Linked DNA regions of Homo sapiens. The protein of the gene in region 2 purifies or fractionates together with the protein of the main gene of each other region. This does not show direct contact. Each region holds a gene or a part of one and is shown on either strand. Other genes may lie near its edges. The genes, in order: TIMM13 and LLGL1.

The links.
Region 1: the proteins of LLGL1 (region 2) and TIMM13 purify together in Homo sapiens (co-immunoprecipitation; 2 studies listed by BioGRID and IntAct, with this or other methods). This does not show direct contact.

What each region holds. Positions count from the first base shown.
Region 1 is NC_000019.10:2,417,897-2,432,951, reverse strand, and holds TIMM13 (mitochondrial import inner membrane translocase subunit Tim13), read left to right. Parts: upstream 1-5,365; 5' UTR 5,366-5,418; coding exon 5,419-5,538; intron 5,539-5,627; coding exon 5,628-5,696; intron 5,697-5,905; coding exon 5,906-6,004; 3' UTR 6,005-6,863; coding exon of another isoform or gene 6,864-7,025; 3' UTR 7,026-7,327; downstream 7,328-15,055. Other genes in the region: LMNB2 (lamin-B2), read left to right, coding at 429-536, 1,050-1,169, 1,294-1,404, 2,000-2,041; TMPRSS9 (transmembrane protease serine 9), read right to left, coding at 6,864-7,025, 7,459-7,595, 7,685-7,950, 8,695-8,863, 10,705-11,098, 14,814-14,950. UniProt on the Homo sapiens protein: Mitochondrial intermembrane chaperone that participates in the import and insertion of some multi-pass transmembrane proteins into the mitochondrial inner membrane.
Region 2 is NC_000017.11:18,233,129-18,242,634, forward strand, and holds part of LLGL1 (lethal(2) giant larvae protein homolog 1), read left to right. Parts: intron 1-649; coding exon 650-808; intron 809-884; coding exon 885-1,047; intron 1,048-1,144; coding exon 1,145-1,280; intron 1,281-1,520; coding exon 1,521-1,575; intron 1,576-1,710; coding exon 1,711-1,865; intron 1,866-1,960; coding exon 1,961-2,184; intron 2,185-2,341; coding exon 2,342-2,409; intron 2,410-3,478; coding exon 3,479-3,632; intron 3,633-3,706; coding exon 3,707-3,811; intron 3,812-4,352; coding exon 4,353-4,645; intron 4,646-4,938; coding exon 4,939-5,086; intron 5,087-5,327; coding exon 5,328-5,481; intron 5,482-7,449; coding exon 7,450-7,745; intron 7,746-8,322; coding exon 8,323-8,587; intron 8,588-8,756; coding exon 8,757-8,871; intron 8,872-9,037; coding exon 9,038-9,150; intron 9,151-9,319; coding exon of another isoform or gene 9,320-9,379; coding exon 9,380-9,500; intron 9,501-9,506. UniProt on the Homo sapiens protein: Cortical cytoskeleton protein found in a complex involved in maintaining cell polarity and epithelial integrity. Involved in the regulation of mitotic spindle orientation, proliferation, differentiation and tissue organization of neuroepithelial cells.

The DNA.
Region 1 (15,055 bases), on a different chromosome or scaffold from region 2:
GTGACCCAGCTGATGGGGTGACCAGGGTCAGGGTGACGGGGCCGCCGGCCAATGCGAGGCAGGGGACAAGGTGACCGGAAAGACCGGGGCATGGGGGTAACGGGGTGACCCAGCTGATGGGGTGACCAGGGTCAGGGTGACGGGGCTGCCGGCCAATGCGAGGCAGGGGACAAGATGACTGGAAAGACCGGGGCACAGGGGTAATGGAGTGACCTAGCTGATGGGGGTGACCAGGGTCAGGGTGACAGGGCCGCCGGTCAGGACGAGGCAGGGGACAAGGTGACTGGAATGACCAGGGCATGGGGGTAATGGGGTGACCTAGCTGGTGGGGGTGACCAGGGTCAGGGTGATGGGGCCACCAGCCAGGGCGATGGGGGCGGTGTCACAGTCCTGGTGGCTGAGGGTCAGGTGTGTGCCGTGTCTTCCAGGATCAGTCTCTGGGGAACTGGAGAATCAAGAGGCAGGTCTTGGAGGGGGAGGAGATCGCCTACAAGTTCACGCCCAAGTACATCCTGCGCGCCGGCCAGATGGTCACGGTAGGTGGTGGGGCAGGAGGGCGAGGGTGGCCACGGATGGGGTGTGAGGTGGGGTCAGGGGACTGGAGGCACAGGACTTGGCGGGGGTGGGTGGGGATGATGGTGGCACCAGGCACCGTCTCAGAGCGGCTGCCGCAGTCATAGAACCTCCATGTGCTGGTGTCACCCCACTGGGCCTCCCTGGAGCCTGAGTGGTGTGCCCTGGGTCTGAGTCCAGGCTGCTGGGGCTGGCAGGCGTCCCCGTGAAGTGTTAACAGTCAGGCGCATGGGCCATGGAGCCTGGTGGGTGTCAGATCCCAGTTCAGCCCCTGCTTGCCAAGAGCCCTTGGCCTCTGTGAACCCTGGTCTCTTCTTGTGTATCCTGGGGACCATCACCCTGGATAAGCCTGCGTCGGGCTGGAAGGACTGAACGCCCAGGGCATTGAAGGGGGCTTTGTGGTAGGGGCCACTGGCTGGCCCACGTCCCTGGAACCAGAGGTGACCCTGATGGGGCCATTGTTATTGGGTCCTCAGGTGTGGGCAGCTGGTGCGGGGGTGGCCCACAGCCCCCCCTCGACGCTGGTGTGGAAGGGCCAGAGCAGCTGGGGCACGGGCGAGAGCTTCCGCACCGTCCTGGTTAACGCGGATGGCGAGGTGGGTGTGTGTGGCTTGGGGGGTGCTCGGCTGGAGTCCTGGGCAGGGTCTGGGCACCCTCGGGGCCGCCACAGCAGCTCTGGGCCCGATCCCGGGACATGCCGCCGTGTCCTGTCCCGCACAGGAAGTGGCCATGAGGACTGTGAAGAAGTCCTCGGTGATGCGTGAGAATGAGAATGGGGAGGAAGAGGAGGAGGAAGCCGAGTTTGGCGAGGAGGATCTTTTCCACCAACAGGTAGGACCCCTGTGCCCACTTGCGGCTGGGGGGCAGCCTCTGGGGCAGAGTGAGCTCGTGCACACACATACACATGCGTGCTGGCCGCATCCCCGACGGGAGCTCCATCTGGCTGCCGTGGCTCAGGGTGAAGCCAGCCTTGGCTGTTACCAGCACGGCAGAGACCTGTTCTTGCCTCCTGGGTCGTGCCCATCGTGTGAATTTGCGACATCACAGACCTCAGGGTAGCTGGCCAGGGGGTCCCCTGAGAGGTGGGTGTTGAACAGCTCCCCAAATGCTCTCTGGTCAACCGGCTTCCTCAGTCGAAGACACAGGTCCCTTCAATACTGGCTTCTGGGGAGAAGATGAGTGCAGAAACCACAGCTGCATTAAACGCGTGCGTCGCAAGTTCCTGTGACTGTTTTGGAACCCAGAACAGAATGTGTAGCTCACAGGCGGGCTCATGGGGACATGGAAGTGGAATGGAAGGCTCTAGAAATAGACACTGTTGTTGCTCAGCCCCTCCCTGGTGGGGAGGTGGGGGCAGCCATCTACCTGCCGGCTGCCTCCAGGCTGGCCCTGATCATGGCCGACCTTCCTTCCTTCCTTCCTGCAGGGGGACCCGAGGACCACCTCAAGAGGCTGCTACGTGATGTGAACCCACACTCCTCATCCACACACCTTTCTTTACCCAGAGCCACTGAAAACTATTTTTATATCATTGGCTTTCTTTAGTTCTTGATACATTTCTAGAGAATTTCTAAGCGAACTGCCAGAACGTGTGGGTGGGTCTCCCCCAGCCCTCCCTCCTGGCGGGTCTCCTCCAGCCTCACTTCGCTGCCACTTCGCCGCTGCCCCGGAGACTTTTCAATCCCACCCCACTCCTCATCTCACCATTTGGTCAAATTGGAAGCCCAGGGCCAGGACCCGGAGGTTTAGAAGATGCTTGGGCTTGGAGGGAGGAGGGCCGGCGAGGCTAGCGAGGGGACAGGAGACGGCCCTGCTGCGGACGGAGCGCGGAAACTGCGTAGGAATTCAGTGGTGGTGGGTTTTTTTAAGGCTTTCTACAAAACCAAATTCAGAATCCAGGCGTCGACCTGGTGGGGCCCGGGGCCAAGCCTGCATTCTGGCTGCCCAGCTTCGGACAGCGGGAACTCCTCAGGCAGCCACGCAGCGGGTGTGGGCCAGCATGGGGATGGCGTGGCCCCCAGGGCGGGTTTTCACTCCGCTGCCTGGGCTTCCAGATTCCCGTTCTGGCAGCGCACCGGCCGGGTTTCTCGGACCGTTGACTTTATTTGGGGGAGTTTTCCCGCAGTTCAGTTCCTGACTGTGCAAGGCCAACAGGGCAGGGGAGGGGAAGACCTGGGGAAGGAAGAATGAGGACAGTCCCGTCGTAAGACCTGTCACAACAATAAGCAGGGAGGGGAGATGTGGAGGGGACACATCTGGTTGCCTTGGAGGCAGAAGCTGTGAGTTTCAGAACAGCTGTCTGCAGGGAACGCCACCATGTTGACCCTCTGGAGGAGAGCGCTGTGGAGCCCCTCCCGTGTTCCAGCTCCGTCTGCCCTGTGCCTATATATACACATGCGTCTATCCATACTGTGCTTTTATCTGTGATTTTCTCGCTGAAACCATGTTTCTCAGACAGGCCAAGGCCACCTGACTCCTATCACGACGCACCCAAGCCCCTCAGTCCAGCTTCCCAATGCCTGGCACCCCCCTTCGGCAATAGCTCACCGTTTACACCCTCCCTCATAGATACACAGAAGTTATTTTTTTAATGGATATTTATTTTTTTACATTGGTCAGTACACAGGTCAGGAGCTCACGCCAGGGCCTTGAGGACAGGCTGACCCTCCTCCCCGGGGTGGCGTGGGGCTGGGGCACCCTCCGACGGCAGAGCCTCCTTCAGAAAGTGCAGCTCAAGTCTTAAAGACACCAAAACTGAGCCATGGGCACGCGCCGTCTCCGGGCCATGGCGTTCACTGCAGGGCGGGGGCGGCACCGCTCCCCTGTGACTGCATCCCGCCTCCCTGGGGACCTGCCTGTGGCAGGAAGGAATGGGGGGCCCCAGCCCCAGGCCGGGAAGGAGCCAGCGGCCGACAAAGCAGAAACACCCGCTGCTCCACGTAGCCCCTGCTCGCTGTCCTTGCTCTCAGAAGTCCCGGTCCCATGTAGATAGAGGGGGGCGCATCTTACCAAAGCATTTCCTCCTGGAGGCTACGCCGCTGTGCTCCCAGTCAGGCGGCTGGTAGGGAGCTTTGCCTGCCCCGGGGATACCCTCTGCCAGCCGCTGGAAGTGGGAATGCTGGCGACAGACTGTGTCCTCTTTCCCACCTTCATAGCAGGAATCACCCGGACCCGACTGGCTGGGCTTCGTGCTAGCGAGGGTTCTGGGGGTGGGTCTTGGTGATCTTGTCCTATGGGGAGTCTGCAGTGGTCTCAGCCACATCCTATGTATTTTGGCTCTGGAGGAGCAAAGCTGTATCCTGGAGTTGGTCTGTGATTTGCCGACAGCCTTGCAGGCTGGGCTCAGGGACAAAGTCCCCCCCAAAACCCGCAGGTCCTCATGTCCAGACGCTGCCCAGTCCTGTCCTGAAAACAGCACGCCCCAGGCCCACAGAACCCCCCACCCTACATTTGCCTTGGGTGGAGCTGGGGGTGGTCCTAGGACTGCGGGTGCCCTTAGCTGAAGGGGGTGGGGAGAAGCGTGGACTGGGCAGCCTGTGGGTAATTGGAGGTTCATTGAGAATTGAGTCTTTGGAAACACTAAGAAAATCAAATTTTTAAAAGTTATTTATGGCCTGGGAAACAATTTGCATTTGTCCCCAAATACGCTTAGCTGTGTGCCGCTTAGAACGATGCGAAACCATCCCTCTGTGTAAGCCCGTGCCGTGTGACTCGAAGCCTAGCGCCCTCCCTGCGAAGCATCAGACGCCACCCAGCCCTGGGGGGAGGCCCACGCCTGCTGGACCAACGCGGGTTCTGGGGTGCACAGCGCCAGGTTAACGCTGAAGCCTGCCCCGCTGAGCCCAGGAGCCGGGAGGCCTGCGGGCTGACCCAGAATCCGATCATGCACCTGTCCTCATGCCAGCGGCTTTGGCTGGGGTTGGTCTGAAGCCTGCACGCGGCAGTTCTTTGTTAAAGATCTGAGGGACTCCTCAGTCCTGGGGCGTCGCCGCCTGCAGCCTCTTCCAAGCCCTGCGTCCAGCGAGCGTCACAGCACAACCTGCAAAAACGGAGCTGGGCTGCAGCTGGGGCTGGCATGGACTTTCATTTCAGAGATTCGGTTTTTAAGAAGATGCATGCCTAATGTGTTCTTTTTTTTTTCCAATGATTTGTAATATACATTTTATGACTGGAAACTTTTTTGTACAACACTCCAATAAACATTTTGATTTTAGGTTCTGCCTCTGAGTTTATTCCTGAGGGGAAGCTCGAGCCGGGGCCTCTGCCCTAATGAAGCGGATGTCTAAGAAAGATCCCTCCACCCCCAAGGAAAAAGGTCACTGGCTAGTGTAGCTAGTGTAAACAGGACCCAGGCGATGCATGGGACCCTGCCCTTTTTTTTCTAGTGAGCCTCCGACGCTGTTGCACAAGCTGACTCTTCGTCACGTGATGCGACCGGGCTCCGCCCCGGCGGCAACACGCTGTATAGACGCGCCGGGTGCCTCGTGCGCATGCGCGGCAGGCCCTTCGGGACGAGCTGGAGGCAGAGCGTGAGTACAAAGTGATCGGCCTCGGCCGCACGTAGTAGCCCCCCTACTCCCCGGCCAAGTCAGGGCCTCCCTCTTCCCGCGGAGTCGCAACCACGGGTAGCTCGTGTAGGTAACGGCAGGTCCAGGCCTCCGCATGAGCGGAGGGCCCCCCGCGCGACCTTGAATGGCCCGGGCGCGCGCGGTCGTGTGGGAGTTGTAGTCCTCCGTCCCCGTCCGCGCGGACTCCGTTTCCCGTGGTGCCCCGGGCGGCCCGCTTCCGGCGCAGTTAGTTACGAGTCGGCGCACGCGGCCTCGGTCCGGTTGACTTTGCGGAGCCATGGAGGGCGGCTTCGGCTCCGATTTCGGGGGCTCCGGCAGCGGGAAGCTGGACCCAGGGCTCATAATGGAGCAGGTGAAAGTGCAGATCGCCGTGGCCAACGCGCAGGAGCTGCTGCAGGTGCGGGGCTGGCCGGGGACGGGCGCTGGGGGCGACAGGGCCACCCCTGGGGGCCGACGTCGCGGCTAAAGCCTCGCGTGTCTCCACAGAGGATGACGGACAAGTGTTTCCGGAAGTGTATAGGGAAACCTGGGGGCTCCCTGGACAACTCCGAGCAGGTGAGACCCGCGGAGGTTCGGGGCAAGGGTCGCGAGGGCCTAGATTCGAGGGGGGAGGTGTCTGCGCGTGCGCAGACTAACGGGGAGGTGCGACGGAGTGGTCACTGCACGTGCGTAGTCTGCAGCCCGGGCGTCCTGGAGCCGGGGTCAGGGCGGTCCCCGGGGCCGCGAAGTCCCGAGCTGAGCCGTGCGCCCCTCCGCTCCCGCAGAAGTGCATCGCCATGTGCATGGACCGCTACATGGACGCCTGGAACACCGTGTCTCGCGCCTACAACTCGCGGCTGCAGCGGGAACGAGCCAACATGTGACCGGCGAGCGCGGGCCACCCCACCCTGTTCATTTCCATAAACGTGCTTTGAGAGGCGGGGTCCGCATGTACGTACTGCCTGCCCGGGGCTTAGGAGGGTGGCACCGGTGCTGGGACACACGGGACTGTGTCCTCGCCACCCCCCGCCCTGCCCCCTGCCAGCCAGTGCAGCTTGGATCTCGGGGGTGTGGGGCCCTGTGCCTTCCTGAAGTGCTGGCAGCCCAGTGGCACCTCCTTCAGGCCTTTGGGGTATTCCCCTAGTGTGCCCAAGTCAGCCTCATATTCTGGGCGGACAGCTTGTCTGGACTTCGGAGTTGGGGGTGGTCAGACACCACAGGAGCTGTCACCTCCTGCGGATGGGCAAATAAATTGGTGGAGGACGGAGAGAAACCTCTTTATTTCCCTCCTGAGGGGTCTCTGGGAAGAGGTGACGCGTGTCCCTGGAACCCCAGCTCGGAGGGTCTCAGCCTCCCCTGGGTTGGGAGAAGTCCATCTTTCCCCTTAGTGCCACCGGGCTGCTGAGTCACGAGGAATGTGTTGCTGCTGCCACCCCTGCCCCAAAGGCTAAGGGGGACAGCCTTCCCCTTGTCAGGGCTTGCTTTGACCCTGCTTCGTTCCACCCCGGGTCCTGGTGGAGCACCAGGCAGGTGGTCCTCGCTGTGACACTGAGGTGCTGAGCCAGTGAGCTAGGGTGGAGGGGCTGTGTTTATTGGAACAAAGGGTGGTACCAAAATGCATCCCCATGACCCACAGCCCCCCCACACCCGTCCTTGGGTAGGGTACGGTGGGGTGGGGTGTTGGGTGGCCTGCTGCTCCTGTTGCTTTCACGTAGAGTCTCGGCCTGGGCAGTCACGTGGTGGTCACTCCTGGATGTGCTGTCCTATCCAGCCTCTCACAGCTGCCACCCGGGTATAGACACCTGGGAAGTGGGGCCGGCCACAGCCATAGCCCCAGCTAGTGACCCCAGTTAGCACCCACCGTCCAGAGGGCTCCCTGCAGGCCAGGGGTCCCCCAGCGTCACCCTGTTGGGGAGAGAAGAAAGGGGGTTCAGAGGCCGGTACCTCCCCTACAGCAGCCCTTGGGTCATTGGCCCCTCTAGGAGTGACCCTAGTGACTTCCCCTGGGAGCCGCATTTTCACTATCTGGAAAATGGGCTCAATGCAAAGGTGGCAGACATTTATGGACACCCGCCACGTGGTCCCGGAGTGGAACGGTGCCTCCCACTGCAGCCTCTGCCTGCTCTGCCGCCGAGGCCCGGGGATGGGATGCGGTGGGTTGCCCAATAAACGGCTGTGGAGTGGAAATTCCTCCAGAGCCAAAAAGGCTCCCTGCTTGATCCGCTGGAGAAGCCTGCACCGGAGGGTGGCTCCCGGATGGTGGGCTTCGTGGCAGCGGGAACCCGCCCTCCCCGGCGGCTGGGCGGGACCTGGTCCCCTGGGCCGGGGCGGGGCTCACCGAGCAGCTGTCCACGCCACCCTGCGGGAAGCCGGCACACAGCATGCGGCTGCTGATCTGCACTGGGTAGAAGCGGCGGCAGGTCTGCTCGCTGAGGAGGCGCACGGCCGCCTTCTGCAGCTGCCGCGCCATGGAGCCTGCGGGCGGGCGAGCGAGACGGGGCGGGTGGGGACCGCGTCCGGCCGCCCCCCGAGCCCCGCACCACCGCGGCCCCGGGCGCGCCTACCTCCTTCGCGCACCGAGCCCCAGCCGGTGATGACGCAGCGCGTGCCGTCCGGGGGTCGCGGCGCGGGCTCGGGCAGGCAGATGGGACGCACCAGGCGGCTGCGACGCACCGGCCCCGCCAGCTCCAGCAGCGCCACGTCGTAGTCGAGCGTGTAGAGATTGTAGAACGGGTGCTTGTAGATGCGCGCCACGCGCTCCAGCTGCCCCTCCGCGCCGCTCAGGAACGGCGTGCCTAGGAAGGCCGCCCACTGCTTGGGGTCCCCGTAGCTGCGGGGCGCGCGAGGACAGGCGTCGGCCCGAGCCCCCACGCCCCCGGCCCCCGCCCCTGTGGTGTCCCCCAGCGGCCGGCTGGCACCCTGGGCAGGGTTATTGGCCTCTTGGTCTCTGGCTGTCGGTCTGGGAATGGGCTCAGTCTCCCCCATCAGGCACCGAGGCGGCACCGGGAACTGCAGCCGTCACCACCTAATATGAGCGCTCTGAAAAGGGGTCTAGTGGCCGTGCGAGTCCCGCCCCCCGCCTGCCCTCCCCTTCTGACCTCCAGCCCTGCAGAGCCCAGAGCTGGGTGTCCCCTCTGGAAAACCGGACCCCTCGACTGCCAGGGCTTGGGCCCTGGGGAGGGCAGCTTTCTACTGGGTGGGCTTTGGGGGGCTGGAGCCAAGTCCCAGGGGCGAGGGCTGGGGAAAGAAGTGACCCCAATGTTCCCGTGGGCTTAGCCTGGAGCTGGAGGGGGGGGGCCGCAGCTTCCGGGTTAGGTGGGGACCGCGGGGTAGGACTCGGCCTTCGCAGCCCCAGCCCCGTGTGGTCAGGCTAGGGGGTGGGTGGTCAGGGGAGGGCTGCAGGGAGCGAGGATGGGGAGATGGGGGGTGGGAGGAGTGGCCTGGGGCAGTGGGAGCCGGGGTTGGGGAGGGCACTCCCGGCAAAGGAGGGGGTCAGGGTGCGTTTTCGGGCAACAGTTCGGTTCCGGGTGAGCTACAGAGACATGTAGGGGCATTTGGAGCGTTTGGAACTCACACGTCGAAGCAGTGCGCCGCCGACAGCAGCCACCTCTCTGCCACCAGCACGGCCCCGCAACGGTGTTCCCGGCGCCGCAGCCACAGGCTCACCTGCCACGGCCACTCCCCACGGCCCGCTGCGCTGCCGCCCACAATCCTGGTGAGCGCGGCCGGCGCCAGGCCACAGTCTGCGGGGGAGCCAGGCGCGTGGGCAGGCGGACCCAGGGCACCTCCTCCACGAAGGCCCCCCTGGGCGCCGCCTCTCCACGAATCCCCCTGGGAGCCCCAGGGAGTAGGTTGTGATGGGGGACCTATCCCAGGAAAACTCAGCAGGAAAGGACACTGGGCCTGCTGCTTGGTCTTTGGGCTTTTCTCAAATAACATTGGAAATGCATTTGTTTCCTATGACTTCAGTTTTGGGACCATACGTTTCCCCTGCCGGAGGCCCCTCTCATGGCAGCCTCCCACATCTCCGTCTTCCAGGAGTTCCCTCCCACCCCAAGGCCTTTGCACACACCAGGGCCCCGCCCCAGAGGCCCCAGCCCTGCCTTGGTGCCCTCTGCCTGGATCCCTGATCACCTCCAAGCCCTCCCCAGACGGTGCCAAGCGCAAAGGCCTTCCTCAGAACCCAGCTGTGGAAAGAACACGTGGGTGGTTTCCAGGGGGTTTCAGGGACCCTGTTACCACCCATGGAGGGGGTCCCATACCCACCTGCTGTCTCCAGAGGCGTGTTTTCCTCCTCAGGGGCAAGCCCCCCCGCCGCCCTCTATCACCACCCAGCTGGCTTCCCTGGGTCCCCCCCGCCCCCCACCCCCCACCAACCGCCATCCAACCCGCAGCAGCTACCAAGGCCAGTAAGGGGAAATGCCAGTTCCCCACCAGCCTTGGCACCGTCTGGCCCTGACATAAGACCAGGTGGCCTTGGATAATCTGACAGCAGCCGCAGCCGCTGTCCTTGGGAACACCAGCTACCTCCACACAGAACCCGCCTGTATTTTGAGGGGGGCCTTCTCCACCTCTTTTGGGCCCAAAGAGATCCCACGCCATAGCTATTGAAAAAGTCAAAATCAGCTGAGACTGAGAAAGTGAGAGCCCCCAGGCTGCAGGGACAGACCTACATGAGGGCAGCTGCCAAGTTAGCAAGAAACACGCACCCAAGGACATGGCACAGCTGTGAACCATCAAAGTCCCTGCTTTCATTTTTTTTTTTTTTTTTAATTTTTTTAGAGACAGGCTGTGTCACCCAGGCTGGAGTATAATGGCATGATCTCGGCTCACTGCAGCCTCTGCTTCCTGAGCTCAAATGATTCTCCTGTCTCAGCCTCCCCAGTAGCTGGAACCACAGGCATGCACCATCACGCCTGGCTTTTTATTTTTATTACTATTATCTAGCTGGAGTCTCACTCTGTTGCCCAGGCTGGAGTGCAATGGCACGATCTCGGCTCACTGCAACCTCCACCTCCTGGGTTCAAGCGATTCTCCTGCCTCAGCCTCCCAAGTAGCTGGGATTACAGGCACCTGTCACCATGCCTGGCTTTTTTTATTTATTTTTTTGTAGAGATGGGGTTTCACCATGTTGGCCAGGCTGGTCTGGAACTCCTGACCTCTGGCGATCCACCCGCCTTGGCCTCCCAAAGTGCTGGGATTACAGGCATGAGCCACCGCGCCCAGCCAGAGAGGCCGTTATGTCTTTTTCTTTTTTGAGACGGAGTTTCGCTTGTTGCCAGGCTGGAGTGCAGTGGCATGCAGCTCACTGCAAGCTCCGCCTCCCGGCTTCATGCCATTCTCCTGCCTTAGCCTCCCGCGTAGTTGGGACTACAGGCGCCCACCACCACGCCTGGCTAATTTTTTGTATTTTTTTAGTAGAGACAAGGTTTCACCGTGTTCGCCAGGATGGTCTCGATCTCCTGACCTCTTGATCCGCCCGCCTCGGCCTCCCAAAGTGGACGACGTTATGTCTTGTTAGGCAGCCCAGGCTGATTAACATGGGACCCTCCACTCCCAGGGATCCCTCCGTCTCTCCCGGTACCTGGTAGCTGGGTGTGTGTGGTGGCCTCCGGGGCGTCTGGAAATGGCGTCTGTCCCCTAGCAGTGGTGCTCACGGCAGATAAGGTTGAGTTGGCAGGTTGGCCCGTCACCCTGCTGGCAGCCCCAGGGGTGGGTCTGCTGGGTGTGGCCCCCGGGACTGTGAGGCCAGCTGTCGTCCTGGGGCTGGTGGTGGCCAGCATCCTTGTGGTCGAGGGGGGAGACATGGGAAGGGGCTGGGAGGACATGATCTCCAGGATCCAGCCCTTTAGCCTGGTGATGCGCGTGTACACGCCCGGCTTCTTAACCTGAGCGCAGCCAATACCCCAGCTCACGATCCCTGCCAGATAAAACACGCCAGGGGCCTCCTCGCAGGCCAGGGGGCCCCCAGAGTCACCCTAGAAAGGAAGGAAAGAGCACTGGTTGGTCCTCCAGGGACCCTCTCTTCCCAGCACTGCCATACCCTCCTGCGTTCCTACAGTGGGTGGGAGCCATCGAGGGCGGGGGGCAGAGGGCACAGCGCGGGTCTGGAGACCTGACTGCAGCCCCATGCCTGGCTGTGTGACCTGGAGTGAGTCACTTCTCCTCTCTGAGTTTCCATCATTCTTGCTTTTGTTTTGAGGAGGTAAAACAATGCAGAAAAACTCTAAAAATAATAACAATAAGGCCAGGCGTGGTGGCTCACGCCTGTAATCCCAGCACTTTAGGAGGCTGAGGCAGGCAGATGATGAAGTCAGGAGTTCCAGGCCAGCCTGACCAACATGGTGAAACCCCGTCTCTACTAAAAATACAAAAATTAGCTGGGCGTGGTGGTGGGCGCCTGTAGTTCCACCTACTAGGGAGGCTGAGGCAGGAGAATGGCGTGAACCCGGGAGGCGGAGCTTGCAGTGAGCTGAGATCGCACCACTGCACTCCAGCCTGGGCAACGGAACAAGACTCCCTCTCAAAAAAAAAAATAAATAAATAACAACAATAACAGCCATGAATAGTCCCACCATCTAGAAGTAGCCCCTGACCACTAGCTGCCAAGCTTATTTCTTTTCTTGAGGCAGAGTCTCGCTCTTGTTGCCCAGGCCAGAGTGCAGTGGGATGATCTCGGCTCACTGCAACCTCCACCTCCTGGGTTCAAGTGATTCTCCTGCCTCAGCCTCCCGAGTAGCTGGAACTACAGGCATAAGCCACAACGCCCGGCTAATTTTTGTATTTTTAGTAGAGATGGGGGCTTCACCACGTCGGCCAGGCTGGTCTCCAACTCCTGACCTCAGATGATCCACCCGCCTTGGCCTCCTAAAGTGCTGGGATTACAGATGTGAGCCACCTGGCCTGGCCTCAACATTCTTTTCAAGATAAAAAGCTAACTATTGTGAATCGCCCATTTATATAGAGAATAAATAGTATAATAATAGATACTATAAATACCTATTATTCTATTTTTATTGTCAGATATAAAGAACAAATATAATGAATATATAGGAAGAAAAGACTATGCAAGACACCGATCTCACAACACTCCTAGAAGACAGGCATTGCTATGCTTCCCACTTTACATATGGGGATCAGAGTCCCAGAGAGGTTAAGGCACTTGCCTGGGGTCACACAGTAGTTGAAGCAGGATTTGAACTCAGAAGTCTGATTGAAGAACTTGGGCTGGGTAGGTTCCCATTGCAGGTTATTTACCACCTTCCTTTTAACTACTGTGTGTGAATGGGCATTTACACTGTCATTGATATTTTGTATTGATTAGTAATAATGGCATCTAACTTTGAGAGTTACTATTGAAATCTGATGCCATTTTTTTTTTTTTTTTTTTGAGGTGGAGTCTCACTCTGTTGCCCGGGCTGGAGTGCAGTGACATGATCTCGGCTCACTGTGACCTCCGCCTCCTGGGCTCAAGCAATTCTCCTGCCTCAGCCTCCGGAGTAGCTAGAATTACCAGCACCCGCCACCATGCCTGGCTAAATTCTTGTAGTTTTTTAGTAGAGACAGGGTTTCGCCATGTTGGCCAGGCCAGTCTTGAACTGCCTACCTCAGGTGATCTGCCTGCCTCGGCCTCCCAAAATGCATGCCACTGCACCCGCCCTTCGTTTTTTGAGATAGGGTCTTGCTGTGTCGCCCAGGATGGAGTGCAGCTGTGTGATCACAGTTTACTGCAGCCTAGACACCTGGCCTCAAGAGATCCTCCCAGTTCAGCTGCCCAAGGAGCTGGGACCACAGGCACCTGCCACTCTGCCTGACAAATTTTTTTTTTAAATTTTTGTAGAGACGGGGTCTCACTATGTTGTCCAGACTGGTCTTGCAATCCTGGCCTCGACTGATCCTACCTCAGCCTCCTGAAGCACTGGAATTACAGGCATGAGGCACTGCACCCAGCCTGAAAATTAACCTGTCTGTGTGTGCACGGTTGAGCCCTTCAGAAATCTGGGCATGGTGGCTATGGCCGGGTGCAGTGGCTCAGGCCTGCCATCCTAGCAGTTTGGGAGGCTGAGGCGGGCGGATCACCTGAGGTCAGGAGTTCGAGACCAGCCTGGCCAACATGGTGAAACCACGTCTCTACTAAAAATACAAAAATTAGCTGGACGTGGAGGCACATGCCTGTAGTCCCAGCTACTCCAGAGGCTGAGGCAGGAGAATCACTTGAACCCAGGAGGCAGAGGTTGCAGTGAGCCGAGATCACGCCACTACACTCCAGCCTGGGCGACAGAGTAAGACTCCATCTCAAAAAAAAAAAAGGAAAAAGAAAAAGAAATCTAGGCTGGGTACAGTGGCTCACGCCTGTAATCCTAGCACTTTGGGAGGCCCAGGTGGGCAGATCACGACATCAGGAGATCGAGACCATCCTGGCCAACATAGTGAAACCCCGTCTCTACTAAAAATACAAAAATTAGCTGGGCATGGTGGCGGGCGCCTATAATCCCAGCTACTCGGGAGGCTGAGGCAGGAGACTCGCTTGAACCTGGGAGGCGGAGGTTGCAGTGAGCCAAGATCGCACCACTGCACTCCAGCCTGGGCGACAGAGCCAGACTCCGTCAGAAAGAAAGAAACAGAGAGAAAGACAGAGAGAGAGAGAGAAGGAAAGGAAAGGAAGGAAAGGTAGGGAGGGAAGGGAAGGAAAGGGAGGGAGGGAAGAGAAGGAAAGGGAGGGAGGGAAGGAGACGGTGGGAGGGAAGGGAAGGAGAGGGCGGGAGGGAAGGGAAGGAGAGGGTGGGAGGGAAGGGAAGGAGAGGGCGGGAGGGGAAGGAAAGGGAGGGAGGGAAGGAAAGGAAAGGTAGGGAGGGAAGGGAAGGGAGGGAAGGAAAGGGAGGGAGGGAAGGAAAGGAAAGGTAGGGAGGGAAGGGAAGGGAGGGAAGGAAAGGGAGGGAGGGAAGGAAAGGAAAGGTAGGGAGGGAAGGGAAGGAAAGGGAGGGAGGGAGGGAAGGAAACGGAGGGAGGGAAGGAAAGGGAGGGAGGGAAGGAAAGGAAAGGTAGGGAGGGAAGGGGAGGGAGGGAAGGAAAGGGAGGGAGGGAAGGAAAGGGAGGGAGGGAAGGAAAGGAAAGGTAGGGAGGGAAGGGGAGGGAGGGAAGGAAAGGGAGGGAGGGAAGGAAAGGAAAGGTAGGGAGGGAAGGGAAGGAAAGGGAGGGAGGGAGGGAAGGAAACGGAGGGAGGGAAGGAAAGGGAGGGAGGGAAGGAATGGAAGGAAAGGCCAGGGAGGGAAGGAAAGGGAGGGAGGGAAGGGAAGGGAGGGAGGAGAGGGAAGGAAAGGGAGGGAGGGAGGGAAGGAAAGGTAGGGAGGGAAGGGGAGGGAGGGAAGGAAAGGGAGGGAGGGAAGGGGAGGGAGGGAAGGAAAGGGAGGGAGGGAAGGAATGGAAGGAAAGGCCAGGGAGGGAAGGAAAGGGAGGGAGGGAAGGGAAGGGAGGGAGGGAGGGAAAGGGAGGGAAGGAAAGGGAGGGAGGGAGGGAGGGAGGGAAAGGGAGGGAAGGAAAGGAGGAAAGGAAAAGGAGGGAAGGACAAGGAGGGAAGGAGGGGGGGAAGGAAAGAAAGGAAAAAAATCTAGGTCTGCACACAAAGAACTGCTGGGTGAACGGCTGTGGGCATTTCATGGAAATATTGCCCGCTTTCCCCCTTTGAATGCTTACCTGGCAGGAGTCGACTTTGCCTTCCAGGAAGCCTGCGCAGATCATGCGGTCTGTGAGGGAGAAGTTGTAGAGCACACTACAGGTTTTCTGGTCTATGATGCCCACGGACGCCTTCTGCAGGAGCTCGGGCTTGGTGGCTACCAGGGAAAGAGCCAGAAAGGCCACGTGCACAGTGATCATCAGAGCAGCTCCAGTTCCGCTCCGATAACAGCCCCGAGATGCAGCATCCCCACCCCACAGAC
Region 2 (9,506 bases):
GGGTTTGGGGCAGGGCCTAAGCCAGTTAGTAACAGGAAGGGTCCCCTGGCCTCTTCAGTTGTGGGTGGGAGACAGGCCTTTCTGTGCATAGGCAGGGTTGAGGGCAAGGAGGGTCCCATGGGCTGTGCTTGGTAAGGCGCTGGCAGCATGCCCCAGCTGAGTGAGAGTGTGGGGCATCTCTCTCCCCAGCCCTGCCTGAAATAGCTGGAAAAGGGGAGTACCAACCCAGGGATGGATTCCTGATGCCTCCCAGCTTCTGCAGATGGGGGTATCTGGGGCCCTCCTGCGAAGTCAGGAGATGTCTGAGCGCTGGCAGCGGGATTCCTAGGAGGGGCTCAGCGGGGAGCTCCTGGTCCTGGCTTGGGCAGTGCCCTGGTTCCTGCTGTCCTCTCCTGGTGGGTGGGAGGAGCTGGGAGCCCAGTCTGCAAGACCTAGGGACCCTATTTTTATCCATCTCCCTGCTGACATCCTGATGAATAATTGAGCGGGCTGATGATGATGCATGTCTTCCTGGGGTGGCTCTGTAAGTAGGCCCTGGTGAGTGCTGTGGGGCCAGTGATGAGTTATCAGCAGTGGCCCAGCCCCTCACACCCCACCTGAGCAGGTGGATGGGCTTGTACCCTCACTCCCTTCCCCTTGTTCCCTGCAGTGCTCCGCTCAGCCTTACCCGAGTCACAGTGGTCCTGCTGGTGGCTGCCAGCGACATAGCAGCCCTGGGCACTGAGGGCAGCAGTGTCTTCTTCCTGGATGTTACCACCCTGACCCTGCTCGAGGGGCAGACGCTTGCCCCAGGCGAGGTTCTGCGCAGGTAAGAGGCCGGTGGGCTTCCCAGCACCCACTGTGTGCCCGGGAAGTTCTGCTGGCTCACCTGCCTTCCTCCACAGCGTGCCAGACGACTACCGCTGTGGGAAGGCACTGGGCCCCGTGGAGTCACTCCAGGGACACCTGCGGGACCCCACAAAGATTCTCATTGGCTACAGCCGGGGCCTGCTGGTCATCTGGAACCAGGCCTCGCAGTGTGTGGACCACATCTTCCTGGGGAACCAGGTATGTAGGTGAGGCCTGTGTCCCCTCAGCCTGGGCCCCTTGTGCATGCCCACCATGGCTCATGCCTGCCTGCCTGCCTGCCCCTGCCTGCCCGCAGCAGCTGGAGAGCCTATGCTGGGGGCGTGATAGCAGCACTGTGGTCAGCTCACACAGCGATGGCAGCTATGCTGTCTGGTCTGTGGATGCCGGCAGCTTCCCAACGCTGCAGCCCACGGTAGCCACCACACCTTACGGTGAGTGCTGGGGACACCTTAGCCAGAGGGTGGTGATGGGAGGGGGCACCACTGAGCCAAGCCAAACTGGCTGAGGAGGGACTTCCCCGAGGGGGTGGTCTGGGGGCAGTGTGTCTCCCGCCGACTTCCCGGGGAGGCAGGAGGCAGCTGTAAGGTAGAGAGCAGTGGAGGGCAGAGCAGGAATGGCAGAATTGCTAAGAACCACCAGTGAGTCTGGTCTGACGCTGTCCCACCCCTCAGGCCCCTTTCCCTGCAAGGCCATTAACAAGATTCTGTGGCGGAACTGTGAATCTGGGTAGGTCGAGGGAGTGGGTGTCCGATGTGAGTTGGGTCTGGCTAGGGGGCTGGAAGGGTGGGCTCTCCCTAGGTTGTGCAGTATGTGCTCTGGACCCAAGTGGTTCATGGCTCGCACACCTCCCTCTGCACATAGGGGCCACTTTATCATCTTCAGCGGTGGCATGCCCCGTGCCAGCTATGGTGACCGCCACTGTGTAAGTGTGCTTCGAGCCGAGACATTGGTGACGCTGGACTTCACTTCCCGCATCATCGACTTCTTCACAGTGCACAGCACACGGCCCGAGGATGGTGCGTGCCCTGCCGTACCCTACCCTTTCCCAGCCCCACCTGGTGCCCTCTGCCACCTATGGCTGTGCTCACCCCATACTCCCTCCGTCCCACAGAATTTGATGACCCCCAGGCCCTGGCTGTGCTGCTGGAAGAGGAGCTGGTGGTGCTGGACCTGCAGACTCCTGGCTGGCCAGCTGTGCCTGCCCCATACCTGGCCCCGCTGCACTCCTCTGCAATCACTTGCTCGGCCCACGTGGCCAGTGTCCCCGCCAAGCTGTGGGCCCGCATTGTGAGCGCTGGCGAGCAGCAGAGCCCCCAGCCTGTCTCCAGTGCCTTGGTGTGTGCGGCGATCAGGGGGGTCTTACAGGGTGGAGTCTTGAGGAGGGGGAGAGTTTCAGTTCTAAGCCCGGAGGTCAGAATGTGCCATACTCGGGGTGAGAGGGAGAAGATGTTCGTCCTAACCTTGTGCATACATCTCTGCCACCCCCTCCCAGAGCTGGCCCATCACTGGGGGCCGAAACCTGGCCCAGGAGCCGTCACAGCGAGGGCTGCTGCTGACGGGGTAGGTGTGCGTGCTTATGTGGGTGAGTGGGCCCCTTGCTGTTGGGGGAGAGCCCATCCTGGGCCTGGTGGGTGCAGAGGTGCCAGGAGACTCAGGCCTGGCCCCTGGTGGGACCAGGTAGTTCCTCCTTGCCCAAGGTGGTTTGGAATGAAACCTCCCTGGACCTTGGTTCAAGGTGCTGCCCTGATCTGCCTTTTGGCCTGGAACTGAGCTCTACCAAACCCCAGGGCTCCACCCGCCCAGCCTGCCTGCCCTGGGACTGGAAAATCTGGGCTGGCCCACGCTGAGCTGCCCAGGGAAGGTGCCAGAGAGCCCAGCGTGGGCCTGGCGGGCGCTGACGTGCCCAGTGACTCAGGTCTCAACTTCCTGCCCTGCCCCCACTCCCGCCTGTGCTGGGACCCTCAGGCCTCTGACTCTGGTGTGCCCTTCCCTGCTGAAGAGCTTGCCGTGGCTTTCAGGGCTGCTGGAATGAGTCTCAACCACCCCCACAGTCACACACCTCTCACGCCCTGGCTCTGGGCTTTCACCACCGCCTGGGGCCCTGCTTGGACTCTGCAGCTGTGTCCCAAGGCTGCGCCCTAGATTTGTCTACTCCTTCCCCTGCCCCCTCCCTGCTTTCTCCCGGCCTCTGTAGTCTTCCTGCTCCTCCACCTACGTGGCTGCCTTGGGCCCCATGCAGCTCCTCCCCCGGGATGCCCCATGCTCTGTTCTGTGACTGCCTTACTCTTGATCACCTCTGATGGCTGCTCCAGTGCAGGCAGAACCCCCAAAGTCCTCTGTTCTCTACATGTCCCCCTTTGCCACCTCCTGTTAATCAGGGTGGTCATTTCCACCTTGTTTGGTTTAAAGGCTCCAGGTGCATATGGTGCATGTGGCCTGGCCTATAACAGGTGCACAGTGTACCTGTGCTGTCTACAGTAGGTGCCTATTGTTTTTTGTAAAAGTAGGATTCCGGTCAGTGTTTGGCACGTGCAGTAGGTGCTTAGTGAGTGGTTATCAGATGAGTGAATGGAGGGGCGTGCAGGCCTCCCAGGAACTCGGGTAGCCCTGACATCTGCCCTCCCTGCAGCCATGAGGACGGCACCGTGAGGTTCTGGGATGCCTCGGGTGTGGCGCTGCGGCCGCTCTATAAGCTGAGCACAGCTGGCCTCTTCCAGACAGACTGTGAGCACGCTGACAGCCTGGCCCAGGCTGCCGAGGACGACTGGCCACCCTTCCGCAAGGTGGGCCCCTCCCCTGGCCCTGATGAGCTGGTCCTGACCCCGCCTGGACTCATTACTCCTTCCCATCCCTCTAGGTGGGCTGCTTCGATCCCTACAGTGACGATCCCCGGCTTGGCGTGCAGAAGGTTGCTCTCTGCAAGTATACAGCCCAGATGGTGGTGGCTGGCACTGCAGGCCAGGTAGGGCTGGGTGTCCCCTGGGTTGGAGATGTCAGGGAGGGCTTTCTGGAAGAGATGAGCTGGAGGGTCTGGTGGAAAGGGAGATGGACTGGCACAGGCAAAAGCCAAGGTGGGAATAGGGCTCTGGGTGGGGCTGGCTGGGGTGAGGACAGATGGGAAGTGGGCCTGTCGCTGGGGGAACCACAGTGTTGAGAGGAGGGAACTCATGTCAGTGCTGTGCTCCGGCACTCACATGACATACAGGAGGTGCTCAATGTGTCCTTATTGCTAAATGGGAGATAGAGGCTCAGGGTAAGGGTGGACACTTTGCCCTCAGAGGGCAGGGACTAGTGTGTCTTGGTCACCACTGTGTTCCTTGTGCTCAGCCAGGGCCTTGGTATACAGTAGGCATTCAGTGAGTGCTTGTTTAGCTGATGAACTGAAGACAGTCCTAGAACCACCTTGGTGGTGGCTGGGGCTGCTTCAGAGGCTCCAGGCTGAGTGGGGCCCAGGGCGGCCCCTCCCCTGCGCTGATGCTCCCCCTGCCTGGCTGTGGGCTCAGGTGCTGGTACTGGAGCTTAGTGATGTGCCGGTGGAGCAGGCGGTCAGCGTGGCCATCATAGACCTCCTCCAGGACCGCGAGGGCTTCACATGGAAGGGCCACGAGCGGCTGAGCCCACGCACGGGGCCGCTGCCCTGGCCTGCTGGCTTCCAGCCCCGTGTCCTGGTGCAGTGCCTGCCGCCAGCTGCTGTAACCGCTGTCACACTCCACACCGAGTGGAGCCTCGTGGCTTTTGGCACCAGTCATGGCTTTGGCCTCTTCGACTACCAGCGCAAGAGCCCTGTGCTGGCCAGGTGTGTGGGGTGGGGCCGGCTGGGCAGTTGGAGCCCCCAGCGAGATGGGGTCTGGGCTTCCGTTTCCACCTCTAGTGTTTGGTGTGGCAAAGGCCACTAACCTCCATTGCCCTATAAGAAATAACCTGGCAGCTCCAAGAAGGACATTCTCAGTACCACCTGCAGCTGGGTCCATAGGACTGCGCCAGAGGGGCTGTGACTCCCTGACCTGGGTGCCTCCACAGGCCAGCAGGAGTGTGGTGGCTGCCCCAGGAGGCTGCTCTATAGCACGACTGGACCCTGTCTTCCCCCAGGTGCACTCTTCACCCCAATGACTCCCTGGCCATGGAGGGTCCGCTCTCCCGGGTGAAGTCTCTCAAGAAGTCACTGCGCCAGTCTTTCCGGCGCATTCGCAAGAGTCGTGTCTCTGGCAAGAAGCGGGCTGCTAATGCCAGCAGCAAGGTGAGCTGGGGTGGGCTGCACAGGAGCTGTGCCTGTGTCCTGTGCCTTGGCCTGGCTCTGGCCTGGGACCCCTGGGGCCTGCTTAGCTCAGTGCTCCTCCCTCGGCAGCCCCTGGGCCCTCCAGAGGGATGGGTGAACTAAGCTGGGTGGTAGAGGAATGGTAACAGAACGTAGGGCGCAAAGCAGGATGCAAGCCACTGGGGTGCTAGGGAGACAGTGTTCAGGAGCCCCCGCCCGGCAGTTGCAGGAAGCCAATGCACAGCTGGCTGAGCAGGCCTGCCCCCACGACGTGGAGATGACGCCCGTGCAGCGCCGCATTGAGCCCCGCTCTGCCGATGACTCCTTGTCGGGTGTCGTGCGTTGCCTATACTTTGCCGACACATTCCTTCGAGATGGTAAGGCAGGGGCAGGGGCAGGGACAGGGCAAGGGTTGGGGGGGCTGGCCTCAATTGGCCACCTGGGAGATGGGTGGTGGCAAGGGAGGTGGTGGGACTGCACCTTCCAGGAGGTGGCTGGGCACGGTGGCTCAAGCCTGTGAGTGATCCCAGCACTTTGGGAGGCCGAGGTGGGCGGATCACCTGAGGTCAGGAGTTTGAGACCCGCCAGGCCAACATGGTGAAACCTCGTCTCTACTAAAAATACAAAAATTAGCCAGGTGTGGTGGCGGGCGCCTGTAATCCCAGCTACTTGGGAGGCTGAGGCAGGAGAATTGCTTGAACGTGGGAGGCGGAGGTTGCAGTGAGCCGAGATCGTACCACTGCACTCCAGCCTGTGCAACAGAGTGAGACCTTCTCAGAAAAAAAGCTTACCATCCAGCTCTCCCAGGGGGACTGCTGGGTCACCCCCAGTCTCTCTGGGGGAGCTGGATGGTAAAGGATTTTTGAGTGAGCTGGGTGGGCCTCTCAGATCTGAGCCAGGAGAAGGGAGGTTGAGGCCTGGTGGATGACGGTGAGGGGCACCAGCCAGTGCCCAGGCCCCGAGCCGGGCATGTGTGTGGGCAGCTGCCCAGCCACTTGGCTGGAGTGGAGCAGGTGAGGGTCGAGGTGTGTGGTTCAGGGAGATACTGCTGCTGGCCAGAGGCTGAGGACCTGGCTTTGATTCTCAGTGGCCTGGGAGCCCTGGGAAGGTCCTGGATTTGTTGATTGAGTCACTGATTGATTTTGAACTTGTACAATGGGAGAGTTTCAAACATACACAAAAATAGAGAGGTGCAAAGTTGTCCCACATACCTCACATGCCTGCCACCAGCCATGTGCCCCTGCGGATTCTGCCCCCCTCCTCCACATTCTTTGCTGTTTTTTTTGCCGGGGTATTTTAAATGAAAACCCAGATACAAGTACTTCAGCATGTTCCTGACAGATGTCACTGACAGCCACTGCTCACATCATGCCCTGTAGAACCAATGTGAATTCCTGAGTGTCATCTGCTTGGTCTACGAGCTCAGCTTTCTGATGCCATTTATTTGTCGAGGGTCTTTGTGCAGTGGATTTTCTCACTGTCTGGATGTGGCGGGTGCAGCTGGGGGTGGGGGGTTCTTTGACTTTTTGTTTTTTTTGACTACAAAGACCTAGAAGAGGAGAGCCTGGGGTTTTTAACTTGTTCCACTGGCCCGAGAAGGCCGATGGGTTCATGTTCATGGCCGGCTGGGGTTCCTGTTGGGCATGTTTTGAGTTGTGCAGACACTTAATGCCTCAGGATCCATCGGGTCATCAGGGAGCAGGTGCCGAGTCTGCTCTTGCTTCTGCTGGGCTGGGCTCTGATTCTCCACTAAAGCTTGTCACCCAGAGGTTCAGTTCACACAGGCAGAGCAGGGTCGATGGATGGTCGTCCTAGGTGTCCCCAGGCTTGGCGGCTTCCTCTGGCTGCCACGTAGGGAGCACACTGAAGACAGTGGGGGTGAAGCAGGGCTAAGACAAGGCACACCTGTCGACAGGACTAGCAAGGGGACGCAGGGGTGGAGAGAGGAGTCGGGGTCTTGTGGGGCTTGGGGCCTGAGTGATGCTAGGATGGAGCTGCGTTTACTGAGATGGGGGCTGAGGGTGCAGTGGGATGGGGCTGGAGGTCTGGTTTGGGTGCCCATCAGCATTCTGTGCAGATGCGCTACAGCTGTTCGGGCCTCTGCAGGAGGGCTGCATCCTGGGCTCCGACTGCAGTCAGCAGCATAGAGCTGGGGTCTCAGGCCTCGAGGCTGGAGGTCACCAGGGAGGCATGGGGCAGGAGGGAATCAGCCCTGAGTCCCAGGGTGTCATAGTTAGGAAGCAGGGCTACAAGAGAGGCAGGGAGGGACCTGCAGTCTGTGGGAAGACCCCAGGGGAGATGCCTGGCCCACAGGGAGCACCCTCCTACGCGCTTGTTTTCTGCAGGGGCCCACCACGGGCCCACCATGTGGGCTGGCACCAACTCAGGCTCTGTGTTCGCCTATGCACTGGAGGTGCCGGCAGCAGCAGTGGGTGGTGAGAAGCGGCCTGAGCAAGCGGTGGAGGCCGTGCTGGGCAAGGAGGTGCAGCTGATGCACCGGGCGCCTGTGGTGGCCATTGCCGTGTTGGACGGGCGTGGCCGCCCACTGCCCGAGCCCTACGAGGCCTCACGGGACCTGGCGCAGGCACCTGACATGCAGGGTGGTCACGCTGTGCTCATCGCATCTGAGGAGCAGTTCAAGGTGAGCCACTGTGGGCTGTGGGGGACTCTGGGGGACTCCCCTCCAGGCCCCAACCTCATGGACACCATTGGACCCTCAAGAAACCCTTCCTGCCTGTATCCCCCACTGTTGGGACCCTAATTCCCTTGCACCCCAGAAAACACTCCCAGCCAGCAGAGAACTCCTACCCAAGAACCCTGATGCCCCCTCAGCCTGCTGAGTTCCCCTGGGAGGGCAGGAATCTAGTCCTATCTCACTGTGCCACACAAGGCTCCTGTACTGGGCCCAGACCCCTGAGCCCAGTCCCCAGGGGCTCTGCCTCGAAAGAACTCGAGGTTTGATGGGGATACCAGCTGCATAACCTTGGCATAACTCTGTGATTGATTTTGTCACAGATCGAGAGAGGGCCTGGGAGGTTTCTGGAGTACAGTGTGAAGTCTGGAGTTTAGTGGGGCAGCCAGGTGTACAGGCACGGGAGGCCACGTAGCATGCAGCTGGGCTTTGTGGTGGGGGCTGTTGGGTCAGCAGCCACGAGGGTGAGGGGCCCTGGGGACGAGGACAGGGCCAGGCTTTGTGCTCACCAGCCACCTGCTGTCAGGTGTTCACACTGCCCAAGGTGAGCGCGAAGACCAAGTTCAAGCTGACGGCCCATGAGGGCTGTCGTGTGCGCAAGGTGGCACTGGCCACGTTTGCCAGTGTGGCCTGCGAGGACTATGCTGAGACCTGCCTGGCCTGCCTCACCAACCTGGGTGACGTCCACGTCTTCTCGGTGCCTGGCCTGCGGCCCCAGGTGCACTATTCCTGCATCCGGAAGGAGGACATCAGCGGCATCGCTTCGTGCGTCTTTACGCGCCATGGCCAGGGTGAGGCGGGGCAGAGGCCGAGGAGGCCTTCCTCAGGCGAGCGAACTGAGTGGGACCAGTACTGCTTGGGAGCAGGAAGGGCACTCCAGGTGGGCACAGGCCCAGGCCACGGAGGAGCTGTGGTTGGTGGTATCTTCTAACTGCACTCCTCATTCTTCTGCCCACCCAGGCTTTTACCTGATATCCCCATCAGAATTTGAACGCTTCTCCCTAAGTGCCCGGAACATCACAGAGCCGCTCTGCTCTCTGGACATTAACTGGCCCCGCGATGCCACCCAGGCCAGGTGTGTGGAGGGGCAGCTCCTAGCCTGGGGGACCTGTGCCCAGGGCCAGGTCTCATCCCACCCCCGAGATCTGCCTTCCCTGGGCTCAGGAGTGGGAGGGCAAGGATCTAGCGTGCCAGCCTCAAGTCATCCACCTATGGTCCCCATCATGGCCCCATCTCTGCAGTTACAGGATCCGAGAGTCACCCAAGCTGAGCCAGGCTAACGGGACCCCAAGCATCCTGCTGGCCCCACAGAGCCTTGATGGAAGCCCTGATCCAGCCCACAGCATGGGACCTGGTGAGGGGGGCATGAAAGGGGTCCAGACCCTGGCCCCACGGTGCCCTGGGGGAGGGAGTCGGGACTCACATAGCTCAGGGATCGGGCAGGCTTCTGTAGGAGATGGGTGGTTGTGTGCTCACTGGTGCCACCCCTCACCATGGGCTGCCTTATGGGTCTGTGTCCCTAGGCCCCCAGGTGCAGAGGGTGCTAAGGGTCCTGGTAGGGGCTGATGACTTGCTCCCTGTAGACACCCCGGAGCCACCCGAGGCTGCACTCTCACCCATGTCCATCGACTCAGCCACCAGTGCTGACACCACGCTGGACACGACAGGGGACGTCACAGTGGAAGATGTGAAGGATTTCCTGGGGTGAGG